Linked DNA regions of Homo sapiens: region 1 is linked to region 2. Evidence: fine-mapped expression QTL. Tissue or cell type: whole blood. Region 2 holds a variant in brackets; the other region holds the start of a gene. All regions are shown on one strand. Distances are from middle to middle.

The links. PIP is the estimated chance that this variant, and not a neighbour inherited with it, causes the effect.
Region 1: it holds the start of PEPD, and the variant in region 2 is fine-mapped to the expression of PEPD in whole blood (TOPMed, PIP 0.93).

The regions. Positions count from the first base shown.
Region 1 is chr19:33,517,868-33,525,966 of GRCh38, reverse strand. It overlaps PEPD (peptidase D), which reads left to right and starts at 4,176. Exons shown (of 15, transcript NM_000285.4): 1 at 4,176-4,223. The coding sequence starts at 4,207. It overlaps LOC105372370 (a long non-coding RNA gene), which reads right to left and starts at 4,033. Exons shown (of 3, transcript XR_935918.3): 1 at 3,953-4,033; 2 at 2,471-2,546; 3 at 190-568. RefSeq lists enhancers at 2,949-3,911, 3,912-4,875 and a silencer at 3,967-4,166.
Region 2 is chr19:33,383,497-33,391,591 of GRCh38, reverse strand. PEPD (peptidase D) reads left to right here. Exons shown (of 15, transcript NM_000285.4): 13 at 113-297; 14 at 3,511-3,702; 15 at 4,111-4,642. The coding sequence ends at 4,248. Among named protein-coding and RNA genes, the nearest start is that of CEBPG, 14 kb to the right of the region's middle. RefSeq lists an enhancer at 1,253-2,155. The variant T/C (reference allele first, on the strand shown) is at 4,459.

The DNA of each region.
Region 1 (8,099 bases), 130 kb before region 2:
CCTTTTTTTTAATCAAGATCTTGATATGGGATAATAAAATTACCAATGAATAGCCCTGCACAACGTGGGAAATGTAATAAAAGGTGAAGGCAATAAAAGGTGAAGCTTCTAGCCACTCCGCGGTGATACCCACTCGTAAGAAATAAAAGTAATTATCACCTGCCCAACCTGGTCGGCTCACTCTGCATGTGCTGAAGAAAACCATTTCAGAACTTTATTTCTTATATTGAATGTCGATAATTGGATGTATTTATAAGTCTCTCTGGAAGAAAACAGCTTGTGATTTCAAGATGGGAAAACAGTCTTCGAAACAGTGAGAAACAATATATTCCCCATTTCCACACACACAAAAAGAGCTTGTTTCCTTCGATGTTTTCAGGTGCTGTTGGAATGATTTGCTTTTCCGAAGCCACCGTTCCATTTCTCATCTTGAATTGCCTCGTAGACCCCAGCAAAGCATTCAGCAGGGACCACTTCATCTGAGGCGGTGATGGGGGCTTCCTTGGGAAGGCCCCTCAGCTCTGCCTGCCTCTTTTCTACAGGAAGATAGATGCCCAGGTGGGCTGGGCTGGGGGAGAAAGGAGAGGAGGAGTAGAACGTGATGTGGGGGCTCCTGTGAGGAGGGGGGTTGATGGATGGTGGTGACAGCTGGGGTGTAGGCCTGGAGGAAGGAGCAGGCCACACAGGCCTTTGGAGTGGGAGAGCTGTGGCTACCTCTGCAGGCCCTGCAAAGGCCCAAGGCTGGGATCTGCCAGAACCAGGATAGAGAGACGGTCTCCTGGGCATTCCACACCCATCACGCTCCTTGCTTTCCCACTTGGGAAGACACTGGGTTGCCATATGCCACCCTGCCCCTATCTCACACCCACAGTCCCCTCTATTCTTCCTCTTCTGTTTATTTGGTGCTGGCTTTCTGCATCCAGTCTTCTATTCTCAGCAAAAGCAAACAATCGCAAAACACCCAAATGCCATCTTGTGTAGGGCTTTGACCATCTGAGGCTGGCGGCCCCGTGCAGTGGCTTTATTGGCTCTTATTGGCTCTTTTCAGTTCTCTCTGCTAATCCTCCTGAGCTCCTGCTGGAGAGAGGGGTTTGGATCGGCAGCTTGCAGCTCAGAATCCCCCAGGATCTCCCCATTAGCCAAAAGCAGAACCCTCGAAGCCCCGTTCTGAGGCCCTCCCAGATGGTGGACTCCCCAGGGACAGTGTGGAGGGCTCCTCTACCTCTGTCCCCAGACCAAAGATCCTCTAGGCAAGGGCAGGGTCTGGATCCCTGGCCCTCACAGCATGGCCAGTCCTGGAGTGGCACTGTGGGCAACAACTGGGTGGTGCAGGGCAGAACCAGCATCCAGGCTACCTCCAGTGCAGTCCCACAGAGCCTCTGGTAGACCAGTGCCCTCAATCCACAGCAGAAGATGGACAGGGCTCTTCCCGGGGACCTCCCCTTCATGGCCCAAGGGTGGCTCATGAGTCAGAGCCTAGCAGGCCGCCACATCTGGGCCTGCCGTCTCCAGGCAGCCAGCTGTCAGCAGCGTCCACGGAGTTGCAAGAGTGGGGGCTAGATTGTGGGGAATGGGTGGAGGAGGGAAACCTGGCTGGACACAGTGTCCCGGGACACAAGAGGTGTCTTCCCAGGGTGAAGCTTCTTTTGCAAGGCCTGACGGGAGTTGGGGGGGCCCTTCTGGAGAATAATGCTATGCTGGCTACCGGGCTACCAGGCTGACCGAGTGCAGACATCTACCAGCCACCTGCAGGGCTTGACGAGAGGAGACTGTTTCGGCCACAAGGGCCTGTGACCTCGGAGGCAATGCCGCATGAGAGTGCTGCCTGGCGCGCTGCCTTGGCTGATTTACACACTCCCACTTCGACTCTCTAAAATCAATCTTCCCCCAATTGCCTCCTGGCTCCAGCAACGTCCTGGGTCTGCCCTGCATAAGTAACTAAATGGTCTTCTCCCATATTCTGGGCGGCTTCTGGAGCCCCTGCCACAGCCTCTGATGGGGAGGGGTGAGGGGTGAGGGGCAGCCCTGCCGGAGCCCCTGATGGGGAGGGGAGAGGGCAGGGGACCTGGGTGGGCAGGGGTCATGGGCAGTGCCTCCATATTACTGTCCACAAACAAGGGAGCTCCACTCAGTTGGTGGGTGCCTTCCTTCCATTATTTTGTGTTTGGGATATTGACTTCTTTTTCATATTAGTAAGCACTCAGAGCTGGCAGCTGGCTTAATTTTGACATATTTTATGTCAAAAGAAATGGTGGGAGGCAGGTGCAATGAATGAGCTGGGGGGTATGTTTTCCTTCCTTGAAGGCGCATGGAAAGCTCATTCTGCTCACCCTTTGTTATTATGTATTTTTTAAAGCGCCACTTACTAGGGAGTTGAGTTTCTTAAGCTGAAGGCGGACCTACTGCTTAACTAGGGGTGTTAGAAGTTCTCAGGGGCCCCTAGGCCAGGCAGTGGGGTGTGAATCCTTACCTCTGTTCTTCTTCCTGGAAACTGGCAAGAGGGTGGAGAGAGCTCCTCTTGGACCTTGCCTGGAGGTCAGGGACCCCTGCAAATTGTCCATGTGTTGTGGGAAGGGGTAGAAGGGATGAGGCCCCCCCTCTTCCATTAGCTCTCGTTTTCCTTATCTGGGACCGGGAGGTGGGAGGGGCTGTCTGGAGGGGCCACATTCCTCCTGGCAGCTTTGGTCTCTGGCTGTGCCTGCAGGTTTGAGTGTAAAACCCTCTAGCAGCCCTGTGAGGTGGCCCCATTAGCTCTCTCCTGACAGATGAGGACAGCAGGGATGGTACTGGGCTTCCAGGTAACTGTGCCACGTGCCCTTCACTACCCTGCTTATGGCTGGCTCCCTTGCTCCTATTTAAGGGGCCTATTCTCCTCCCTGCTTCATGGGGACAAACAGAAGCTGCTTCTCCAGTCATAGCCCCTGGCTCCCACCAGCCTGGCCATGGTGACCCACATCCTTGTTTCGATAAAGAAACAAGAAGCATCCCCCAACCCACAACCTTTGATCAGAAGCCACTTCCAGCTGTGGGACAGCTGCAGGGTGGGGTCAGGAGCCCCACACGCCTATCCTGGGCCACCCATCCACCTGTCCACACACATCTGTACACCACACACATCTGTACACCCTTGGCGCCAGGGACGCCCTCCCCCAACAGTGTGGGGCCCCCTTCCTTCACAGGGGCAGTGAGGTCACTCCTCAGGGTATGGCTTCATGAGCTCAGCCTCTGTGTGAGCACTCTCTGGCCTCAGTTTCCTCATCTGTATAATAGACTTAAAGATAGTCTCGACCTCATAGGGCTGTGGTGAGGTTTCTATGAGCTCACATGTGCAACGCATTTGGGCCGTGCTTGTAATGCCCTGACTCTGTTGGCAGTAGGGAGGGCAGCGTCTGCTGCAGGGTCCCTACACCTTCTCTGCAGGACTCTGCACCCAGTACCAGTGCCCAGTGGGGCAGAGGAGTAAGCCTTCTGGCAGACTCTCCCTCCTAAACCCTTCTCGGCTGTGCCCACTTCTCGCCTGCCCTCCTCCCTGGCTTCCCTTCCTCCAGCTTCTCCATTCTGCAGCCCAGGAAACCTAGAAAAGATCCTACCAGACTTAACTCATAGGCCCCACAGTGGAGGCCCCGCAGGGTCTGGCCCTTGCTTCCCTTAGGCTGCCCCTCTCTCGCGCACATTCTCCTGGACGCTGCACATTTAGAGTCCTCCAGTTGCCCCACGGCCTTTGCTCAAGCCCTTTCCCTTCTTAAACAAAAATCGCCACCTCTGCCCCGACCCTAGCCTGGGTCAGTCTCCCTCCTCTCCTCCCACGTGGTTTCTTTATTCCTATGTGTTCTTCTCCCGGGTGGGCTGGTACGCCAGATCGGGGACTGAACCAGAATCAAGATGTCCTCTGCTTCAGGACCTCCCTCCCACCACGAAAAGGCTGCAGATGCTGCCCGCTAACCCGACCTACTGTCTGCAGCCGGCAGCCCGCTCATTTATCCTGGCCGAGCTCTTGGGCCCCCAATCTCCGGGAGCCCCGCCCCATCGGGGCTCCGCCCTTCCCCAGGTACCGCCCCTTCCCGTCCCGTGGAATTTGGCTCTGGAGGAGGTGGGTCAAGGACTCCATGCCCCGCCCCCTGCCCCGCCCTTACCCCGCCCCATGCATTGGCACCCGGAGGGGCTCAGCTGACGCCGCACTTCACGTGACGCCGGTGCCGGGCGAACATGGCGGCGGCCACCGGGTGAGTGCTGCGCCTCCCTCGCTCTTTCCCGCTGGCGTGGAGAGGGGCATGGGTGTCCCGGCCGGACCGCGGGTGAGAGCGTCAGCCGGGGTCGCTGAATGCCGCGGGTAGGCGCCTCTTCCCGTTGGCCCGGAGTCCCAGCGCCGGTCGGCGAGCTGCACGCTCCGAGTCAGGGTCAGCGCGGGGGCCGCAGCTCCTCTCCACCCTCCTGGCTGGCTCCGGCCCCACCTGCCCGCGTCTGGCGGCCCCACCGTGTGCGGCTGCGGTGGGGGCTGGGGTCGACACGCATGTTCGCTGCCAAGACCCCCGGGTAGGAGGGCGGCGTTGCGAGGACCCCAGGGACCCGGGCGCTTCCCGGAGGAGGCGGTATTCGAGACGGACTTGGAATTCCCTTTTCCCAGCAGGGCACTTCCCCATTTCTTTCAGGGGCCAAATGTCACCCCCTCAGGGAATCCTTCTCTAACCATCTATCCCACTTTTTGTGCCCTCATCATCACCTGATAAACTATATAGAGCATTGTTTGTACTTGTTCTTTATCTTCTCTGCATTTAGAGTGCAAGGGCAGGTATGTTACCTGCTTCTCAGTAGCCCGGTGCCTTGCACACAGTAGGTGCTCCATACTGGGCTAAATGAAAGAAAGCTGAGTGGTCGTAGTGGGAGGAAGGGTGGACAGATGGGTTCACCAGAGCGTTGGGCGGAATCTCCCAGATAGGGAGCATCTGAGCCCAGGGTAAGGGACAAAGGTTGAGAGTTCAGAGTGTTCTGGGGACAGGGGTGCATGCCTGGGGCTGGTTGGAAGGTGTGGTGTTCCAGGTGGCGGCTTCAGACTTTGCCCTGATGGGCTGGAAGGGTTTTGTTACAAGCTGCTTGATCTGTTTTTTAAAGATTAGGCTCCCCTGAGCTATGTGTGAGTTCAATGGGAGAAGGTGTGGGTCTGGTGGTACAGTGGGGTAGAGGGGGCATGGTGTAGGAGGGAGCAGTATTCCAGATGCCAGGTTGGAAACTGAGGTCAGAATGGGGGATCTAGTGGACTGAATGCATCTCTCTTTTTAAGATACAGGGAAAATGGCAACAGAAAGTGGGTTCTAAGTTGGCCCCCAAGGTTGAGGGAGCTTAGAGCATACAAATCAAATATTTTGTGGGCACCTGCTATATTCCAGGAATAGCAGTGGGTCTTCCCTTAAGGTACTCACAGGCCACTGGAACAGATGGACACATGGGACTCTGTCATCCATCTGCTTGCCGTGTGGTCTTGCCATTTGCAAAGGAGGGGCATGGACTCTGAGCTCAGATAAAGTGTGGGAAGGCTTCACTTCCTGGGTGACTTTTGTGCTAGTCCTTCAGCAATGAGACTCCCTTCAGGTAGAGAACAGTGCAGACAAAGTCTCAGATGGGTGTCAAGGAACTCAGGGTCAGATCCTTGAATCCAGCCTGTGACCCTTTTAAAGGGTAGACTGAGCAGGCTGGTGCCCAGCTGTGGGTGTGCTGTCTCTCTGGTTAGGCTGGCTCGGTGCTCACAGGGAGTGCCAGGGGTTGCATTTGGGTTCAGGATTCCAAGCTGGCCTGAGACCTGCTGCTCTCCTGAAGGAACCAAGCTGATGTCTGGACGGGAGCAAGTCTGGAACTGACTGGATCCTGGAATGAGAGCTTTTCTTTTTCTCTTTCTTTTTTTTTTTTTGAGACGTAGTTTTGCTCTTGTTGCCCAGTCTGGAGTGCAATGGCATGATGGCTCACTGCAACCTCCACCTCCCAGGTTCAAGCGAGTCTTCTGCCTCAGCCTCCTGAGTAGCTGGAATTACAGGCGTGTGCCACCACACTCAGCTAATTTTTTGTATTTTTAGTGGAGATGGGGTTTCACCATGTTGGCCAGACTGGTCTCGAACTCCTGACCTCAGGTGATCCACCCGCCTCCGCCTCCCAAAGTGCTAGGATTACAGGTGTGAGCCACCACGCCTGGCCCCAGAATGAGAGCTTTTCTAGCAGAACCGATTCTCTGGGCCACCACACAGGGTGGGTGAGGGAGGCAAAACAGAGTGGCAGGTCTTAGAGAGGTCTGCTATTGAGAGGGTGTGGGAGCTTCCAGAGCCTGGCAGTCTCCTTGGGAAGAGCCATCCCAGTCTGGTATGGGGCTTTCCCATGTACTTTGAGCCTGAGGTTGACCCCAGTGGCTTCCTTTAGAGCAGAATGATTAAGTGTGTTTCCCGCAAAGCTCAGCTCCTAGCCACACTCACAGAACAGATCATAGAGTCAGGCATAACGAGGCATGATGCCAGCAAGTCACGGCCATTGCCGTGGGCTCACTGGGAGTTGGGTTTGGTTGTCTGTAGAATCCTACCAGAGCCTGGGACAGAGGGGGTCCATGAGAGTTCCAGGTGACTGGGGTGTGCCCCATATGATTTGGGGAGTAGGGGAAGCCCTAAACTAGCATCTCAGATTTAATTTGAAACTCAAGAATCTACTCTGAATGCATCTCTCTTTTTAAGATGTGGGGTGTTTCAGGGTTGATCCTACTTTCTCTTGCTAGCCTGGGTGTAGGCTTCAGGTTGAGACAGAGTGCGCTGAGGTCACCTCCCATCCCCTCATGGAGAGGGGTCCCTATCCCATGGCACTTGGTGGCACTGCTGCTGTCTCCTTAAGCAATGCTTTGAGCTTTCCACAGACAGGATTGATAATTTGAAATCTGTCAGCTCCAGCCAGACCTGTCTGCATCTGCTCTCCCACATGGCTTTTTCCATTCCCTTCTTCCCTTGCACACTCACCCAACTAGCCCTGGAATGTTCTTGTCCTCTATATGATTCTTCACGTATTTGCAGGCCCAGCTCAGATGGTTCCCTTTCCCAGAAGCCTTTCCCAGCCCTCGGGTAAAGGTTTAGTGCTCAGAACTCCAGAACACTCAGTTTTCTCCCCAGCAGTACACTTTTACACGTCTGCCCATTGTGGGTTAGGAGTTGCTTCCCTTCATGCCTCTCCTAGCATCCTTAGAACCCCTGGGGTTCTTTTGTATCCGCAGGGCCAGTCTGTGGCTGCCCTGTGATTGGTGCTTGGTGAAATGAATGAAAAGGGGATTTACTCTAAATTAGTCCAGCATCCCATCCTGCTTTCCTGGGAGACTCCCAGTGATTGAGGGAAGGAGTCATGGTGGGGAATGGGGACAGAATTCCGAGGGGTAGGATGAAGAAATAGCCTTAATTCTTTAACTGAGTGGCTCCCAGGAGCTGTTGCAGAGCCAAAAAGAGGCAAAGGTGAACTGCCCTGGACGTGTACCCCTGTTGAGCCGTAGGTTACACTGGAGTCAGCATTCTTCTGGAGAGTCTTCTGCAGAATTCACATTCTGGGTCAAGAGCCCAACCCCACAATGTGAACCTTGTGCTCCAGGAGCAGAAGACTCAGGCCGACTGGGGGCTAGGGACGGGTGGGCCTATGGGAGGCAGGCTGGCCACTGAGTATCCCTGTGCCTTCCCTGGCTCTTCCCCAGGTCCTGACTCCACACAGCTGTCTCTTGGTTTCTGTGTATGCTTGGCACCCCTATCCGCCCCAGGAGACAGAGGTGCAAGGTGGAGGTTGCTGGCCAGTTGCCTCGAGGTCCTGTTCCGCCGTGGCAACCCTCTCCAGCCTGGCGCTTACGGTCTGGTGCCCAGTGGGCTGCCTGAGCATCTGTCTGGTGCCTGGCCCCACGCTGGAGGCTGAGGGGAGGAGGTGGCTGGTCCTTGGCTGGCCTCTCCTACTGGGAACTTAGCGGTGTGACCCTGTCTAGAAGTGGCTCCACATTTCATTTTTTTTTTTTTTTTGAGAGGGAGTCTCACACTGGAGTGCAATGGCGCGATCTCGGCTCACTGCAACCTCCGCCTCCCGGGTTCAAGTGGTTCTCCTGCCTC
Region 2 (8,095 bases):
CCTCAGGCCCTCCCACCACAGCCAGTGTGAGGGCTTCACATCTCCCAGCCCCTGGCCCTGCGGTGTTGGCTGCTGGGCTCTGTGGCTCACGGCAGCTCCCTCTGGCCCACAGGTGTCTGGTGGCCTGACATGCACCGCCTGGCTGACCGCATCCACCTGGAGGAGCTGGCCCACATGGGCATCCTGAGCGGCAGCGTGGACGCCATGGTCCAGGCTCACCTGGGGGCCGTGTTTATGCCTCACGGGCTTGGCCACTTCCTGGGCATTGACGTGCACGACGTGGGAGGCTACCCAGAGGTCAGTGTGGACATGGCAGGCGGAGTGGCCTGCCCATCAGCTGCCGCTGAGCCTGACCCCCAGGGCAGGGTGGGACTCTAGGAGGCAGCAGGCGTGTATTGGGATGGCAGGGATGGGCCCCATGGCTCCCTGTGGTATACGGAGGCCATGAGGAGGGGGGAATCGGGACCCTGGCCAAGACAGGGGTGCATCTGTGAGCATTCCACAGAACTGGACATAGAGGCGGTGCTGTCTGCCTGCTGGGCCCAGGTGTCACCTGTCCAGAAGGTGGCACACAGTCAGGATACGGTGCATGGGGCCCCACAGGACAGTGGTGCTAAGGACAGGTCTTCGTGATGGAGCTACGTGGCACCCCTCACGTCCTGCCGCCTCTGGCTTCATTCAGACCTGGGGCGTGGGGAGTTGATGAGGCCCCACCCACTGGCGACTCACCCTGGCCCCTCACAAACCCGGAGCAGCCCTGCTCTGCCGCTGGTTCGCCCTCTCCTCCCAGGCCCCTGGGCCGCACACCTGGGACCCTGCAGCCTCCTCATCCCCAGGCATTCTGGGGCCCGTTGGCAGATAAGGGAGGCTGGGGGCCATCTCCAGACAAGGTTCCCCGGCCCTCAGAGGACCACCCAGAGGGTAAGTGAGGCTTGGGGAGGCCCAACCGGGCAGGTGGCTACGGCCTCTCGGCTGGGCGGCTGGGGCGCTCCCATCCCTGCCCTTGGCGGGCTGCCCAATGCAGGGGGCTGATTGTGCAATCGTGCACGCCCTGGGGCCCCCCAGCCAGTTAGCCAAGACAAGGCTCAGCCTCTTGGCTGCAGGGTGTTTTGAAAGCACTAAGAATGATTTTTTGGCAGGGTGGGGGCAGTGGGGGGAATTGCTTAAGAGAAGCATTATTATTCAATTATTTTTTTCCTCAAGTGTAAACAGTTAAATTTGGAGAAACAAAATCAGTTTTAATTTCCTAATGTCTATTCATCCCATTGTGTGCAGGGAGCCAAGAGCTGGGCCTTCCAGACATTGTTAGCTGAGGTTCGTTATTCATTAGTCGCCAAAGCGCTTTTTTTCCACCAGCAAAAATTGGCAGCAAACTGTTTTCATCTTTTCCAGTAAGCACCTCTTTGTGCTCAGAGTCTATTCTTCTGACAGATAAACATTGTGGAAAAAATATGGCTTTTCCTATAAAAGTCATTTGTTTTATTTCAGGCCTGCAGACACATCTGGGGCTCCTCTGCTTGGAGCCCAATAAAAGTTGAGGCCTTGTCAAGCCCTGTGCCCAGGCAGAGGCGAGCATGGGCGCGGTGAGGGCAGGACCCCTCCCCACCCCTGAAGGCTGCGCTTCCTGGGCCACAGGGGCTCGTGCCCTCCCCACATGGCTCTGCGCTCCACCCGGCCCAGCCCTTCCCATTCTCTTATGGCGCCTGCGCCCTGTTCTCAGCAGGTCCCCCGGGCAGGCCCCTAGAGCCAACACCCTGAAGGGGCAGCTGCGCCACTGGGCTGAGGCAGGCCTTGCCCTGTGCCCGCTGGGGATCCCTTCTAATCTCCCCCACCCCACTTCAGTGGTGGACCTCAAGATTTCAGAGGGGAGGAAAGTTCGTTTCTCTGGGGAAACAAACCTGCCCCTCAACCGTGTACCATGGAGCAGCCGGGGTGGGCCCATGGGGATGGAGGGGTGACTGGAAGGAAGGAAACCTGACGTTGGCAGGCCCTTGCTTCCCCCAGGCCCCTGGCTTCGATTGCTGTGGGTGGAGACAGGGACGGACACTTCAGGAATAGCATGAAGGAGAGGGATGGGCGGCGGTGGGGTGGGGGAGCCCAGCACAGGCTTCGGATGACAGGGACGGGAAGGTCCTGGAGCAGAGACCCTGGGACCCCCAGCAGCTTCTGGGCAGGAGACAGGCCCCAGCTCGGTCCACATGCACCTCTCACCTGCGCAGAGGGACTGTCACTCCATACGGTTCCTCAGCCACGGGGCATCCCTGCCCTCCGGCCTCAGCTCCCGGTCAGCGGCCCAGAGGCAAGTGTTGTGGGGCCGGGGCCACACCAGCCAGGCTGTGGTGTCTCCTCATCGCCTCCCGCCTGGCCTGCTCTCTCCAGGTCAGCGTGGCTGTCCCTGCCCTCCGTGGAATCAGTCACAGCCTCTCTGGCCGTGCCCAGCGTGGAGGCCGAGCCAGCCTGTTTCTGGTTACCTTACGTGAACTGCTAATTGGAGTCTGATGTTCTTGGCCCCCAAACAGTCAGAAATGACAGCTCCCGCTCCAGCAGCTGGGCTTCCTGGGGAGGGAGTGCAGCCGGGCAGGGCAGGCTCATCCCCTGACCAGAAAGCATACTCGTGCCCACTGGCTCAGAGGCCCTGGCCGCCGGCCGGATGGTGCCCCGGGGACCTGAGGCGAGCAGGAGCTCTCCTGTAATTCCCAGAGCACCCGCTGCCCTCAGCCAAGCTGAGGCCCCCTCAGCTGTGCCTGTGAGTGGACAAGGCCAGGCTGGGTGTGCACTGGGGCAGTGTGGGGCGCAGACAGGGGCCCCTGCAGGGAGCGGCTCTACCACTGTCCCTCAGGCGTTCTCCAAGGCTGGGGGCTATTTCCCAGGGCCCTGCCGTAAGGCCCCGAGCTCTCCTCTGGGAGCCACACCTGCCAAGCCACGCGCACACGGCACATTTGCACTGGCGCACTAAGGCTGGCAGACCCACCCTGATGACGGCACCTGTCCTCCCTGGACAGTCACACGGAAAATCTGGGCCTCGGCCTAGGGGAGCTGGGACCACGACTTCTGGGGCCAGTTTCTACTTGGGCTGCCTGGAAGGAAAGCTGTGGCCCCAAGGGGCTTCACAGCCGCCTTAAGAGCTTTTTTGGCTTCAGTGGTTTGGCATCTGCCACTCCTCTGGCCAGCAGCGGGGCCTGGCTAAGGGCAGCCCAACCCTCAGCCAGCCCCACAGGCCTGTCTGGGCAGCTTGCCCCGGGTGTGTGCACATGGGTGGCCACAGGGCTTCTCAAGCAAGCCCTAGGGTAGTGTGGCCAGGGACACTCAAGATCCAGGGGTATGTGCAGGGTGGAAGGTCTTATCAGGGTGCCCATGGCCCAGCACAGCAGGGGCGAGTCTAGGCTGAGGACCCCAATGGTCAAGAGAGCCCACGAGACTGGCACCGGCCCTCACATGCCCATCTCTCCTGATGAGGCCACGGTGAGCCCTGGAGCTGCTCATCAGGCCCCTCACCTCTGTTCCCCACAGGGCGTGGAGCGCATCGACGAGCCCGGCCTGCGGAGCCTGCGCACTGCACGGCACCTGCAGCCAGGCATGGTGCTCACCGTGGAGCCGGGCATCTACTTCATCGACCACCTCCTGGATGAGGCCCTGGCGGACCCGGCCCGCGCCTCCTTCCTTAACCGCGAGGTCCTGCAGCGCTTTCGCGGTTTTGGCGGGGTGAGTGCCCACGGGCCCCATTCTTGCTCCCAGAACATCTGCCACCTCCACTGCAGCTGCAGACTCCTTAGTCCCAAGACAGGGGCCCTAGTGACATCTTCCCTTGAGGTGGGCTTAGCCTGCCCCTTCGTGTGGTCTGTCACAGGATGGAGCCTCACCCCTCAGTAGGAACAGACAGAGATCCTGCAAAACCCCTGCCCGCTCCAGGGGCTCCCATCCACCTGGCAAAGACAGGGTGAGCAGGTGACATGGGCAGATGGCTCCATGAAGGAGCCCGGAGGCCACCCGTCTCCCAGGGAGTGTCAGCTGCTCCCATCCCATGGTGGGGTGGGCCTGGAATGGGCCCGGCCCTCTAGCCTGGCACATGAGGCTGCTCTATGATAATGTGTGTCTGTCGGCTTGACCCAGGTCCGCATCGAGGAGGACGTCGTGGTGACTGACAGCGGCATAGAGCTGCTGACCTGCGTGCCCCGCACTGTGGAAGAGATTGAAGCATGCATGGCAGGCTGTGACAAGGCCTTTACCCCCTTCTCTGGCCCCAAGTAGAGCCAGCCAGAAATCCCAGCGCACCTGGGGGCCTGGCCTTGCAACCTCTTTTCGTGATGGGCAGCCTGCTGGTCAGCACTCCAGTAGCGAGAGACGGCACCCAGAATCAGATCCCAGCTTCGGCATTTGATCAGACCAAACAGTGCTGTTTCCCGGGGAGGAAACACTTTTTTAATTACCCTTTTGCAGGCTCCCACCTTTAATCTGTTT[T/C]ATACCTTGCTTATTAAATGAGCGACTTAAAATGATTGAAAATAATGCTGTTCTTTAGTAGCAACTAAAATGTGTCTTGCTGTCATTTATATTCCTTTTCCCAGGAAAGAAGCATTTCTGATACTTTCTGTCAAAAATCAATATGCAGAATGGCATTTGCAATAAAAGGTTTCCTAAAATGGTCCTTTGTGCGTGGCTTCCCCTTTATTCCTTTGCAGATGAGCATTTGGGACCCCGTGCACCCTGAAAAGATGGCTCACCTGGTGTCAGTATCAAGTCAGTTCCAGGAAGATGGTGCTGGCAGCACAGGCCCTCTAACGGCTGCTTCTGCCTCAGACTGGCCTGGCGGGACAAGGGCAGAGTCCTCCCCGAGGAGCCTGCTTTGAGCCCCTGGGACTCGGGGCTCTGGTGTCACCCTGTCACTTGCTGCAAGGTTTCCCAAGCCTAACAGGCATCAGAACCACTGGGGCATTTGGTAAGAGATTCCTGGGACCCCCACAGACCATCTGACCCAACGTCTAGGGGCAATGGCCCAGGAATTGTGTATTTCACAAGCGCCCGCCAGATGCTCCTGACAGACAAGTGTGAGAAGTACTCCTAGGCAAGGTGGTTTTAGCTTGTCAGTACCAGCGCAGCCCGAGGTTTGAGGTGGGGCAAGCAACGCTGCAGGAAGATCCTAGGCACTCAGGTCAGACTGGCCAAGTCACCCCGCGCCATGCCTTTGCGCAAGTTAAAGGGCGGACTGATTTAACACAAGTCTTTCTGATACGGTCACTGCCTCCAAACTAGATTTCTGAAGGTGGTAGAATCATGTAGCGCTTGAGCTGCAGATATTTAAAACCTGAGACTTGCAGGGATCTCTTGTCCTTGATTTCTTTTTCATGTGGGACACACTAGCCAAAGCCAGCATCTGTCGGAGACACTGCCAACGAAGGCAGCGCCACAGCCAATTTGCAGAGACCGCTTGTCCTCCCTAAGTGTAGTCCTTGAACAAATTCTACCAGGCAGGAAGCCAGCCAGGGCCCAGCCATGCCTGGTGAAGTATCTGTCCTTGCCTCTGCTTGTCCAGTTCTCCCAGGGTCCCGCAGAACAGCCCACCCCTGGAGCTGGTTTCTAGAATTCTGTACACCATTCCAGGTTTGCCTTCTCACAGAGCTCCCATCCAAGAGTTCCCAAGCCAAGGTGAAAGATGACAAGTGAGAAGGATGCCACAGATGAAACCATGAGGATGAGGGGGTGGAAAACTGTAGCTTAAGAGACGTTTTCAGAAGTCACCAAAGGCCAGCACAGTGGCTCACGCCTGTAATTCCAGCACTTTGATCACTTGAGGTCAGGAGTTTGAGACCTGCCTGGCCAACATGGCAAAACTTCATCTCTATTAAAAATGCCAAAATTAGCTGGGCGTAGTGGCACACACCTGTAATCCGAGCTACTCCGGAGGCTGAGGCAGGAGAATCTCTTGAACCCAGGAGGCAGAGGTTGCGGTGAGCCAAGATCATGCTACTGCACTCCACCCTGGGCAACAAAGCAAGACTGCCTTTTTAAAAAAAAAAAAGTCACCAAAGAGTTTAATACAAACTGATTTCTTCCTATGGTAATAACACAGAAGTGCTTATAAAGTGGTCACATTAAAATAAAAGCCAATTTCAGTTCCAAATCACCATTTATCTTATCTGCTTCTTAGATTTATAACATCCATTCTTTAAGGTTTTCTGCTGGTACAGATACATTCCCTAAGCTATCCATCTGTGACATTGAGCAGTAGCAATTATGTCTTTTTAGCCAGGCGCAGTGGCTCATGCCTTGGGAGGCCAAGGCTGAAGGATCGTCTGAGGCTGGGAGTTCAAGACCAGCCTGGGCCAACATAGGGAGATCCCGTCTCTTAAAAAAAGTAAAAATAAAAAACTAGCTGGGCGTGGTGGCACACGCCTATAGTCCCACCTACCCTGGAGGCTAAGGTGGGAGAATCGCTTGAGCCCAGTTCAAGGCTGCAGTGAACTATGATCGCACCACTGCGCTCCAGCCTGGGCAACAGAGCAAGACCCTGTCTCTTAAAAAAAAAAAAAAAAAAAAAAAAAAAGTATCTTCTGAGTGTAAGGAAAGTTGAAGAGTTCACCAAGCACTTCTCCACCCCTGTTCCCCTGTGACAGACACAGTCTGGTGTACAGGGCTTTAATTTCCACCACTTTCAGGATAAAACCACTCAAAGTCAGGATGAAGCTCAAAATGGACAGTTTAGTTCTGTTAATTGAGAAACAGAGCTGAGTGCACCATACATCTTTCTCCTTCCTTTCAGACATTCCATACCAAAGCTGCCCGTTCCACATAAACATCTCTGATTATCAAGAAGTGAACAAAAAGGAGCAAGGAGAAATCTCTTATTTCTATCTAAACACTTTTCAGAGGGTCACTAGGAACAGAGAGGTCACGTTTTTCCTGAGCCAGTAGGTCAAAGGGTGCTCTTTAAAAAAAAAATTTTTTTTTTAATAAATAGAGACAGGAGTTTGCTATGTTGGCCAAGTTGGTCTTGGAACTCCCGGCCTCAAGCAATCCTCCTGCCTTGGCCTCCCAAAGTGCTAGGATTACAGGCGTGAGTCTCCACCTGTCTCAAAGGGCATTCTTTGGAAGCACAGGTCTAGAGGGCCCCAGTAGCTACCTCCGCTACCCCCATGTTTGTACCTAACTCTGTCTCTTCTAACCTCTGCAGAAATTCATGTAGCTTCAGAAATCCATTAGAGACCCCGCCAGAAAGCTGTATAGTGTGCTACAACCCTTCTGAAACTCAGTGTCTAGGTATTCATTCAATACATAATTGAGCATCTACTCTGCCAGTGCAGGATACAAACATGACCCCTCCTTCCAGAGCCTCTAGTCTGCTGCGAGGCCTTCACCTCAAACCAGCATGAACAAATATATTGTCTCAAACACTGCAAAGTGCCATGAAGCAAGCAACAGGATAGGCTTAGCGTAGACAGCCAGGGGGCTGAGACAGAGAGGGAACTTGTTAGTGAAAAGCCAGAGGAGATGCTTCATTCCAGACAGAAGGAGCTGTCCCAGGAAGGGCAGAAAAGAGCTTGGAAAAGCCCTAGAGCCGAAGTAGAGTGACACAGGAGGATGGAGGGAAATTAAGTTGATGAGGGGAAACGCCACGACACAAGGAGACTGAGTCTCACCCCGGGTGCAATGGGGAGCAACAGATGGTTCTGGAGAGCAGGCAGTGACGCTGCCATCCAGGAACACCAACGAGGAGCCAGTCACCAAGTCCAGGCAAGCGAAGAGGATGGCTCTGCATGGGGGTCGGGGTGGGTGAAGCAGACAGGTACCGGAGCTCCATTTAGAAGGTGGAAGTGAAAGGTGGCGATGTGGAAGCGCATCTGGTTTTAACAGCTTCTTTACAGGGAGGGACAAGAGGTGGCGTTTGGGCTGCAAAAAGTGTAACGCGTGACTGTTTCACTGACAATCCTATTCCTTTTCCAAGTCCAATTCTATAACCCCCATTTCTCTAGATGCCTCTATACAGCTTTCAGGCCTAGAGCTCTGTGAGGAGTGGGATACTGCAGTAAAAGAATACCTAGGCAATGGTGTTCTCTGAATGTATGTAAAACTGTAAAACGCTTATGAACTCTCTGGCTAGGCA